Homo sapiens: one gene and its partners. The protein of the gene in region 2 interacts with the protein of the main gene of each other region in a pairwise test. Each region holds a gene or a part of one and is shown on either strand. Other genes may lie near its edges.

Region 1 (3,652 bases), on a different chromosome or scaffold from region 2:
AGTTCAGTTTAGTACAGTTCAGTTCAGTTGTTTGGGGCGGGGGGAGGAGGATGTTTAATTTTTACAGCTCATCATTATCAAGGCCATTTTAAAACCTTTCAGGACCCCAAGAACTGGTAAAAGATTATGTTGACTTGTCCCAGATACCTCAAAATAAAACTTTTATGGCAGTTTTCTCCGATTAGCCATCTGCCTCATTTTCAAAATCACACAAAGCTTACCAGCATAATGAAATCAAATGAAAATATCTTCTTTCTAGATTTTCCTGACTAGTTTATCTTCATTCCTTCACACTGGCTATAACAGGGTTTTACTGCGATTCTCTTTGGATTGAGTGTTCCTGTGGCATTCCAGGCAGGAATATCGTTTTCATGGGAACTTTCTTTGATTGGACAGCTGCCTCATTCCGGGAAACAAAATTTTGGACGAGTCCCTCAAAACTGAACCTCCCTCTCCTCTCTTCTCTCTCTCTCTTTTGGGAGAGGTCCCTGTCTGCTGGTGCCCCATCATTCTCCATCAATGGGGCACACGACCTTCACTCTGAAAATAAACCTTGACGTCGTAAAGACGACCCACCTGGAGTCTCCACCCGGCGGTAGTGGTAAGGGTTAATGCACACTTCTTTCTGCTTGGAGCCAAATGGGAACTCACAGCACTCCAGCGGCTTCAGCTCGTGGTGGGACTGCAGATCCGGCCAGCGCCACACGCGACAGTAAATCACATGGGGCAGGCCCTTGCGGTGGGACACCTGCAGCCGCCCGTCCAGGGAGCGGGGAATCGTGACGCATTTGCTGGGCTGCCCCGGGCAGCTGAGAGCCCTCTCCAGCTCGTCCATGGCTCCCTTCTTCTTCTTTAACTTCTTCACTAGAGAGTCCACTGCCTTCTCTGCCCACTTTTCCTCTTCATCTCCTTGCTTCCAGCCTAGCAGTCTCTTCACTGCGGGGCTGGTGAAGGAGAAGAGGGAGCTGATGGGGGTGGTGGAGTGCATAAGAGGCCACAGCAGGCTCCGGCGCGCACGGGAACCGCACAGCCCTTCACGGCAAAGTGGGCGGCGAGTAGCTCTCCAGGGGTGGCATAGGGACCAACCCGCCCGTTCTTCTGGGAGCAGCTGGGACCAATTCAAGTTGCGAAGTGTGTTGACTTTCTCCTAAGCCCTTGAACAGGGTGGCCAACTCTGGAAAACACGACAAGACTTCAATTAGCTTAATCGGAGTAACATTCAGAAAAAGTTGAAGTTGGATAGAAAGAGGCAATCTACACCTACAGTCCCAGCTACTCAAGTGGGTGAATGGCTCGAGCCCAGGAGGTCAAGGCTGCGCCACTGCACTCCAGCCTGAGCAACAGAACCAGGCCCCAAAGTTGGATAGAAGGGAAAAAACATTCTTCAAATGTTTTAATTTTAAAACTGTTGTCTTTGACTCTGCCCTCTCCTGTATTTCCTATATCCAGGTCTCAGGTCATTCTGCCCTCAAAGTCTTTGGAGTTTGTCCTTTCTCTCCATTTCTGCCAACACCTGAGGTCTGACTCACCACACCACTTCTCTGAAGTAGCATCTCTCTTTCTCTCTTTCAATTCGAATTCACTTACTCCCAAACACAGCTCTTATCATTTTCCCATTTAAGAAATGACAGTGGCTCCTTGGTCTCCCAAGTGTAAACTCCTCTGCCTGGGTTTTTCCAGGGCCTCCATAATCTGCCCTCAACATGAGTATGTTCTTTCTTTCTCATTTTTAGTTTGCACAAGCAATCCATCTTCTTGTAGAAAATAAATACTAATGAAAAGAAAAGAAAAAAAGAATCGTGAATAATCTCACCACTCCTGGACAGCCATTCTTAACATAGTCTTCCAAACTACTTTTCAGGACAGTGGCTCTCAAAGTGTGCCCCAAGGATCCCTGGGAGTCCCCTGAGATCCTTTTAAGGGGACTATGAGGTTCTCTCTTTTCCAATTACTTATTTGTGTGAACTAACTTCGCTTCACATACTTCAACCAAAACAACATAACACAATAGAGTATATGGAGAAAAGATGACAATCTAGGTGCCATTTATTAAGCCAAGTATTAAATAGATTTGCAGTAATATAAAACAATAATACTCTTCTCAATAACTTTTTTGAAAACAATGTTTTAAATAAAAATATTTTATGTTAATACAGTTTTTTTAATGATTCAATCAATATTTTTTTAATTTCTTAGTTTCAATTTTTAAAATGGTAAAAATTGATAGATACAGCCTACAGAAGCAAGAGTTCTTTGGAGTTCTCAATAATTTTTAAAAGTGGAAATTTTCAAGACCCAAATGCATGAGAACTGCTTTTCTAGAAATTATACACTATCACACACCAATACATACACAAAAAAGCACAGCTGTCACATTTGTTATTTGGCCTAAAATCAGCTTAATTCTTCTTTGCCCTGTCATCCACAGGAGATGTTCTTTCCCAGTTATTCAGCAGTCTCATTTAAATTTCCTGAGGTCGAACTGTATTTCCTCTTCTGTGAAATAGTTGGCTTAAACAAAACCTCCTCCTCCTTCCAGATTTTAGAAACCAGCTACCTCATTAATGTTTAAAGTGGCTGGCTGGTAACATTTTGGAGTAAGCTGACTCAAGTATTTTGGGATCTTGGAATCGATGTAGCTTATAATCTCCAACAATTGTTTGTTTAATATGCATTAAATATAATTTTCTCCTTTGCTTCCCTGGAGGGCAAGCTGTACCTTTCTGAGTCCAATTCTATAAACTTCTTTCGAACAAAGGTGCCTTATAACCCCCCGCTAGGGTGATCATTATCGGGCACCTCAGGTGAGGAGGATGGCAGCATGGTCCCACAATAACGGATGAGATTTAATAAGTATAAAGCAATAGTCACATCACTTTATTCCTCATCTGGGCTTTATCTGGCATTGTACAGAGATAAACTATGACAAAAGGGAGAGTTGAGAGCTCCATAGCTGCTCTTTTCGCTTGGCAGTTTGACTTACACTCAGTTTTATTTGGAAAGGTTGATTTTGTGGCTTAACAATCATGAATTTATAAAGTATAGTTAAGTCATTGTGTTCAAGTTCTGTTTACTTAATCTAGTCAGGCTGCCTTAAAGCAATGGCTGAAGAGGGTTAGAAGCTTTAAGGAGAAGTCTCATGATAGAATAACCTGAACCCCAAAAGAGTTGTGAATTCTGCTTAGTTTTACATGGAACTCATTATTAGTAAGTTGTGGTATAGATCTTTAAGCTGAGGTCAGTCATAGAGAAAAGCTTTTTATAAAAACACTCAGCGAGTTAAACCAAATACACCTTTTAGAAACTTTTGCTCCATGAAACAACAGTTCCCTAAACCAGGTTTTGTTTGGTTCGTTTTTTTAAACTGTGGGTTTCTATTTACCAATGGCATGTGAAATCAATGAATTGGAACAAAACAGCTTTTGCACAAACAACAAAACAAAACAGACTTTATTGCAGAGCAGCTGACGAAAAATAAGTATAATAATAATCATTTCATGAAAAATTTTCATTCACAGGTATGTGCTGTGTGTGTGTGTGTGTGTGTGTGTGTGTGTGTATGTGTGTGCGGTGTATGTGTCCAGGGTTACAATGGAAAATTTACTTGTTAAGTTGGGTTACAATAAAAAAGTTTGAAAAGCACTACTCCTAA
Region 2 (3,652 bases):
AGCAAGAAATAAGAGGGCGCTTCTGTAATAATTCTGGAGCACAGTCACAGGAAACAGGGGAAGCAACAAAACTAGGTAAAAAAGATACTGCAGAGGCTCGCTAAAAAGAAAAAGACAATGGCATTTTCTTGAATGTACTAATTCCTATTGTTTACCAATTCAGATTGGCCTTCCCTCCAAATAGTGAGTTTTTTTTACCTTATTTGTTTCATACAGAGAAGTGAGGCATGGTCTATAGTCATAGTGCTTGGATTTTTTTAAAAACTCAACTTGAGATCAAAATAATGGGATTGGCTCCAGGGGCTTTTTCCTCACTCCCTTGCTACATGGAACCAGTTGTACATCTCAAAGAGAGAGACAGTCAACTTGAGCACAAAATCTGGGTCAGTGTATGTGACTGTGCCTCCGTGACTTTGCACAAGGACCAGAAATGAGCATACAAATCAGAGGAAAGCAGTGACAAAAGTCAACATTCCCTTGATGAGCTAATTGCTTCATGTCTGGCTGAAGAGCAGAAAGCAAGAGATAAGGAGAACATACTATCTGAGGGACCAGGCAGGCTCTGGACTAGCCAGCCCTACCCCAATAAAATCCCCTCATCAGACACTGCCCCCGAAACAAGGCCTGCTGGCTTGAGCACCTGACAAGAGAGAACCTGAGAAAGATAAGCACTAAGCTGAGTAAGGAAGGAGATGGCAGAGAAGCAGCAAAGTTCCTTGCTACTCACAACTTTTAGTTATTCAGCATGAAATACCTATAACTATTGGTATAAATAATATGTAATACAAACCAACTAAGACAACAATGAGGTGATGGTTAAGATAAAACTTGCTTGGTCAGCATAACCTATCCTGAAACTACGACGTGGCTCAGAAACTGGAAACTATTGTTGTCAATAATGATGACAACACAGAGCATTTACATCAGGGGTCCCAAACCCCCGATACTGGTCTGTAGCCTATCAGAAACCCATCCAAGGAGGTGAGCAGCAAGTGAGTGAGCAAAGCTTCATCTGTATTTACAGCTGCTCCCCAACGCTTGCATTAACGCCTGAGCACCGCCTCCTGTCAGATCAGTGGCAGCATTAGATTCTCATAGGAGCACAAACTCTATTGTGAACTGTGCATGCAAGGGATCTAGGTTGAACACTCCTTATGAGAATCTAATGCCTGATGATCTGTCACTGTCTCCCATCACCCCCAGATGGGACCGTCTAGTTGCAGGAAAACAAGCTCAGGGCTCCCACTAAGTCTACATTATGGTGAGTTGTATATTTCATTACATACTATAATGTAATAATAATAGAAATAGGTTGGGCATGATGCCCATAATCCCAGCATTTTGGGAGGTCCAGGCGGGTGGATCACCTGAGGTCAGGAGTTCAAGACCAGCCTGGTCAACATGGTGAAACCTCATCTCTACTAAAAATACAAAAATTAGCGGGTGTGGTGGTACACATCTGTAATCTCAGCTACTCAGGAAGCTGAGGCAGGAGAATTGCTTGAACCTGGGAAGCAGAGGTTGCAGTGAGCCAAGACTGTGCCACTGAACTCCAGCCTGGGTGATGGAGTGAGACTCTGTCTCAAAAATAATAATAACAGAAATAAAGTACACAATAAATATAATGTGCTTGAATCATCCCCAAACCATCCCCCACATCCCCCAGTCCATGGAAAAATAGTCTTCCATGAAACTAGTCCCTAGTGCCAAAAAGGTTGGGGACTGCTGTTTTACATTGTGCCAGAGGAAGCACCATATCTATTCTCTGAATTCTTAAGATAGCTATAAAAATACATATTACTATTCCCATTCAACAGATCATAAAACTAAGGCTTAGAGAAAATAAGTAACTTACAATCTGACAACTAGTAAGTAGATATCAGAACGTAAATACAAGTGAGTCTGACTCCAAAGTGTGTTTAAACCACTCTGAAATACACTCATTCCTTCTCTCTTTCTCTTAGAGATGTCTTGAAGGTTTGCTTGGATCACCAGATAAGGTCCACTGTTACATCTGGCCTCATTCTTTACAGAAACACACAAGTCTGGCCTGAGCACTATTTGTTTCTAACACGGAGGAAGGCTTCAAATTCATTTCCTCTGAGGTAAGAGCAAGAGAAACACATTTCGACATGAGTAGGAGGAAAAACAGCACGACAGCAAAAATCTTCAACCATGAGGGTATAAGATCATGTACAAGGCAGTAAGTGGAGACAGGGCCTCCTCCTTCCCAGGAGACTTTTAACTGCAAAAGCATCCTGCATCTTTACAATGCTTTAAACAATTCTAACAACTTCTATGGCCACCCTTTGTAAGACCCCTAGCCTGTGTCCCAGCTCTAACACTAGAGTCCCACTATTATGTGGGTGGCCTAAAAAAGATCCTACCATTACGTGGCCCACTTCACTTCTCTGGGGCTCAGTTTTTGTCGTCAGAAAAATAAAAACCTATCAAATGCAAAATGGAGGCATTGGGCAGTAACAGAACTAGAAGTGTATCTCCTGACTCTTCACTCATCCACAGTACCACAAACAGCCAGCCCTGATGTTTGCAAGGAAATAAAGATCTCTATAATATCTTCCAGCCCAAAACACAATCATTTTAGACTTTAGCAGCTGGGTCCAAGGATGGAGACTTAACTTCAAGAATACAGTCAAACCCAACTCCCCATGAGTATGAGATGGGGTGTGGGGAAAAACAAGAAGCAACCTTAGGCCAGAGACAGTGGCTCACACCTGTAATCCCAGCACTTTGGGAGACCGGGGTGAGCAGATTACCTGATGTCAGGAGTTCAAGACCAGCCTGGCCAACATGGTAAAACCCCATCTCTACTGCAAATACAAAAATTAGCCGGCCATGGTGGCAAGCACCTGTAATCCCAGCTGCTTAGGAGGCTGAGGCACAAGAATCACTTGAACCTGGGAGGCAGAGGTTGCAGTGAGCCAAGATCACACTCACACCTGGGTGACAGTGAGACTCTGTCTCAAAAAAAAAAAAAAAAAAAAAAAAGCATCCTTAAATACTTACTTACAACTTACTTATGAGCTGGCCCCTTAAGCTTCCAATACACACTATCCACAGCACTCAAAGCATGGCCAATCAATGTTGTCTGTATCGATTGTCCTACTTTATGTTATTCCACTGGGCTGAAGCCTGCTAGTTTTCTAGTTTGGTCAGATGGCTGCTTTCCCCTTGGGAGCCTCACAAAAATGAGACTATCCCCAGAGGTAAAGAAATGTCCATTTAAAAGCCCACTGGTATAGCTGGGCATGGTGGCTCACACTTGTAATCCCAGTGCTCTAGAAGGCCAAGGTAGGGCATCACTTGAGGCCAGGAATTTAAGATCAGCCTGGGCAATGTTGCAAGCAAGACCCTGTCTCTTTAAAAAAAAAAAAAAAAATTAAATTAGCCAGGCATGGTGGTGCACACCCATGGTCCTAGCTACTTGGGAGGCTGAGGTGGGAGGATCACTTGAGCCCAGGAGTTGGAGGTTGCAATGAGCTATGATCACACCACTATACTCCAGCGTGGGCAACAGAGTGAGACCCTCTTAAAAAGGGCCAGGCACAGTGGCTCACGCCTGTAATCCCAGCACTTTGGAAGGCCGAGGCCGGCAGATCTCGAGGCCAGGAGTTTGAGACCAGCCTGGCCA
Region 3 (3,652 bases), about 74 Mb from region 2:
ATTTATCAAGTTCTTCTAGAAATTCATTAGTAAAATTTCTAGTTTATGCGCATAGGACTGTTTATACTATTCTTTGATGGTTGTTTGTATTTCTGTGGGGTCAGTGGTAATATCATTTTTGATTGTGTTTGTTTGAATCTTCTCTCTTTTTTCTTCATTAGTATAGCTAGCGGTCTATTTTATTAATTTTATCAAAAAACTAGCTCCTGTATTCATTTTTTTTTTTTTTGAAGGGTTTTCTGTGTCTCTATCTCCTTCAGTTCAGCTCTGATCTTGGTTATTTCTTGTCTTCTGCTAGCTTCGGGGTTTGTTTGCTCTTGTTTCTCTAGTTCTTTTATTTGTGATATTAGGTTGTCAACTGGAGATCTTTCTAGCTTTTTGATTTGGGCATTTAGTGCTATAAATTTCTTTCTTAACAAGAATGAAATTTTAGCTGTGTCTGAGATTCTGGTATGTTGTATCTTTGTTCTCATTCAAAGAAGTTCATTCTTCTCATTCAAGAAGTTCTGCCTTAATTTTATTATTTACCCAAAAGTCATTCAGGAGCAGGTTGTTCAATTTCCATGTAGTTGTGTGGTTTTGAGTGAATTGAGTGCCATGTGGTGATGAGAAGAACGTATATTCTGTTGTTTTTGGGTGGAGAGTTCTGTAGATATCAGGTCCACTTGATCCAGAGCTGAGGTCAGGTTTGAATATCTTTGTTAGTTTTCTGTCTTGATGATCTGTCTACTATTGTCAGCAGAGTGTTAAAGTCTCCCACTATTATTGTGTGGGAGTCTAGTCTCTTTGAAGCTCTCGAAGTACTTGCTTTATGAATCTGGGTGTTCCTGTATTGGGTGCATATATATTTAAGGTAGTTAGCTCTTCTTGTTGAATTGAACCCTTTACCATTATGTAATGCCCTTCTTTGTCTTTTTTTTTTCTCTTGAGACAGAGTCTTGCTCTGTCACCCAGGCTGGAGTACAGTGGCGCAATTTCAGCTCACTGCAACCTCTGCTTCCTTCTTTGTCTTTTTTGATCTTCTTTGGTTTAGAGTCTGTTTTGTCAGAAACTAGGATTGCGACCACTGCTTTTTTCTGTTTTCCATTTGCTTGGTAAATTTTCCTTCATCCCTGTATTTTGAGCCTATGTGTGTCTTTGTATGTATAGTGGGTCTCTTGAATACAGCTCACTGATGGGTCTTGTTTTTTTATCTGGTTTGCCATTCTGTGTCTTTTAATTGGGGCATTTAGCCCATTTACATTTAAGGTTAGTATTGTTATGTGTAAATTTGATCCTGTCATCATGATGCTAGCTGGTTATTTTGCAAACTTATGTGGTTGCTTCACAGTGTCACTGGTCTGTATACTTCAGTGTGTTTTTGTAGTGGCTGGTAACAATTTTTCCTTTCCATATTTAGTGCTTCCTTCAGGAACTCTTGTAAGGCAGGTCTGGTAGTAATGAATTCCCTCGGCATTTGCTTGTCTGAAAAGGATCTTATTTCTCCTTTGCTTATGAAGCTTAGTTTGACCAGATATGAAATTCTGGGTTGGAAATTCTTTTAAGGATGTTGAATATGGGCCCCCAATCTCTTCTGGCTTATAGGGTTTCTGCTGAGAGATCTGCTGTTAGTCTGATGGGCTTCCCTTTGTAGGTGGCCTGGCCTTTCTCTCTGGCTGAATGGCAGGGTTCTTAACGTGTCCATGTACCTCCTGTGGGAAAGCCATGGATGGACTTTAGGAAGCTCATGGATTTTTCCAAAATTATATATAAAAATCTGTGTACATGTGTATGTGTGCATTTTTCCAGGGAGAGCATCATATTTTTCATGAGATTGGCACAGGAATCTGCCAATATATGAAAGGTTAAAAACTACTCTCTTACATAAAAGTGGTCCTAGGAAGATATCTAACATCTGCAGTTTGAGTATTTGGCCATTGTGGTTCCCTAGCTTGCCCCTCAGCATTGTCTGCCTTGTTTTCTATCTTTAGAGTTTATTTGATATAGATAGATAGATATAGATATAGATATCTCATGTGTTTGTCTTCTATTCTTACAAAACAACAAAATAATGTATGGGCCTTTTTGAGAACATACACGCTCTGGTCCAATATGTGGTAACTTTGATTTAGTGGGTTTAGGATGTTACCAGGGCATATCAAGCTCCTGGGGTGACTGTATACTTTGGATGAGAATTATTCTATCCATGATATGCCCTTGGAAGGCAGGAATCAGTTTTTATTCATCTTTTGTTTCCTTCAAAAAATGTGTCTTGCATCCATTAAATCTTCTGTTGAACTGAAATGCACAGATGACTCATTCCCAGTGAGATAAGTCTTTTTAGCAACTGGTAGTTTTTATTTTTCCCTTATCAAATTTCAGCCTTCTTACCATGCTAGCAAATACATGTTTTGTAGATCTTGTGACTTCATTTTTTTTTTTAAGAATGGTTACCCATTCTAGGACTCAGGTTATGGCATTGTAACAAGATGTGAAAAATGGAATTCTTTTAGTTTCAGATTTGGCTTAGGCTCCAAGCTGCTATGTACCAAAATAAGGTGTGAGACCACCATGTAGGAGTTGCAAAAGATGGGGATAAAAAACATGTTTTGTGACTCATAAAAAAGGCCAGGTTGATGGAAATTAAAACATGATTTTTGGAGAGAGCTATTAGAGTTTTAGGGCTCCCTATATGAAGGAATTAGGGAGGCTTGCTCTCATCTCAAGCCCTCACTGAGAAAGGGCTTTTCTGGTACAGAGACTTTCTACCTGATAGTTCAACTGGATAGCCAGTGGCAGAATTAGCTGTGTGGTTTGGGCAGTTACTGTACTGATGAGAGTGGAGCAGAGGTGTTTCCTGTGGACCAAGGTGAGCACACACAATTGTGAGAGAGTGTGTCTGAATATGTTCAAGAGGCTTTCCTGGAAGTGTGACAGGATCCCAACACAGAGAATCTCTGGAGGACTGCCAAGAACCTAAGACTGAAGGGAAAGTCATAGCATCCATCCAGAGGGTAAATTACCCTTTTCAAAGAATAGGTAAGAAATCTCCAGGGCCTAGGGAAAGGAGAAGTGTCTGAAGAACATGAGAAAGTACCCCATAAGAGAACCACAGTAGTTTTTGAATACCTTGCAAACTCAAAAAGCACCAATGCAAAACTAGTAAGATAATACCAGTCATCAAATAAGAACTTTGCTGCTCCTTTCACCTTTCCCTCCATTTAACCCTCAACCTGGAGGGCCACAACTCTTAATCAGCAAGCTGAGGGAAGAGGACTGGAAGTACTACAGGATAAAGAAGCACTATAGGCCTTGGTGTGCTGGCTCACACCTGTAATCCCAGCACTTTGGGAGGCTAAGATGGGCGGAGCACTTGAGGTCAGGAGTTCCAGACCAGCCTGGCCAACCTGGCGAAACCCCGTCTCTACTAAAAATACAAAAATTAGCTGGGCATGGTGGTGCATGCCTGTAATCCCAGCTACTTGGGTGGCTGAGGCAGGAGAATCACTTGACTCCGGGAGGCAGAGGTTGCAGTGAGCTGAGGTCATGCCATTGCACTCCAGCCTGGGTGACAGAGTGAAACTTCATCTCAAAAAAAAAAAATAGCCCTATAGGACAGCGGTCCCCAACCTTTTTGTAACAGGGACTGGTTTCATGGAAGACAGTTTTTCCA

What was found.
Region 1: the proteins of SIL1 (region 2) and SMAD9 interact in a two-hybrid assay, tested with the Homo sapiens proteins (one large-scale study listed by BioGRID and IntAct).
Region 3: the proteins of SIL1 (region 2) and SGTB interact in binary tests that used the Homo sapiens proteins (3 or more experiments, as listed by UniProt).

The regions. Positions count from the first base shown.
Region 1 is NC_000013.11:36,878,702-36,882,353, forward strand, and holds part of SMAD9 (mothers against decapentaplegic homolog 9), read right to left. Parts: intron 2,077-3,652; exon of another isoform or gene 1,588-2,076; intron 1,175-1,587; 5' UTR 989-1,174; coding exon 577-988; intron 1-576. UniProt on the Homo sapiens protein: Transcriptional modulator activated by BMP (bone morphogenetic proteins) type 1 receptor kinase. SMAD9 is a receptor-regulated SMAD (R-SMAD).
Region 2 is NC_000005.10:139,188,237-139,191,888, forward strand, and holds part of SIL1 (nucleotide exchange factor SIL1 precursor), read right to left. Parts: intron 1-3,652.
Region 3 is NC_000005.10:65,673,592-65,677,243, reverse strand, and holds part of SGTB (small glutamine-rich tetratricopeptide repeat-containing protein beta), read left to right. Parts: intron 1-3,652. UniProt on the Homo sapiens protein: Co-chaperone that binds directly to HSC70 and HSP70 and regulates their ATPase activity.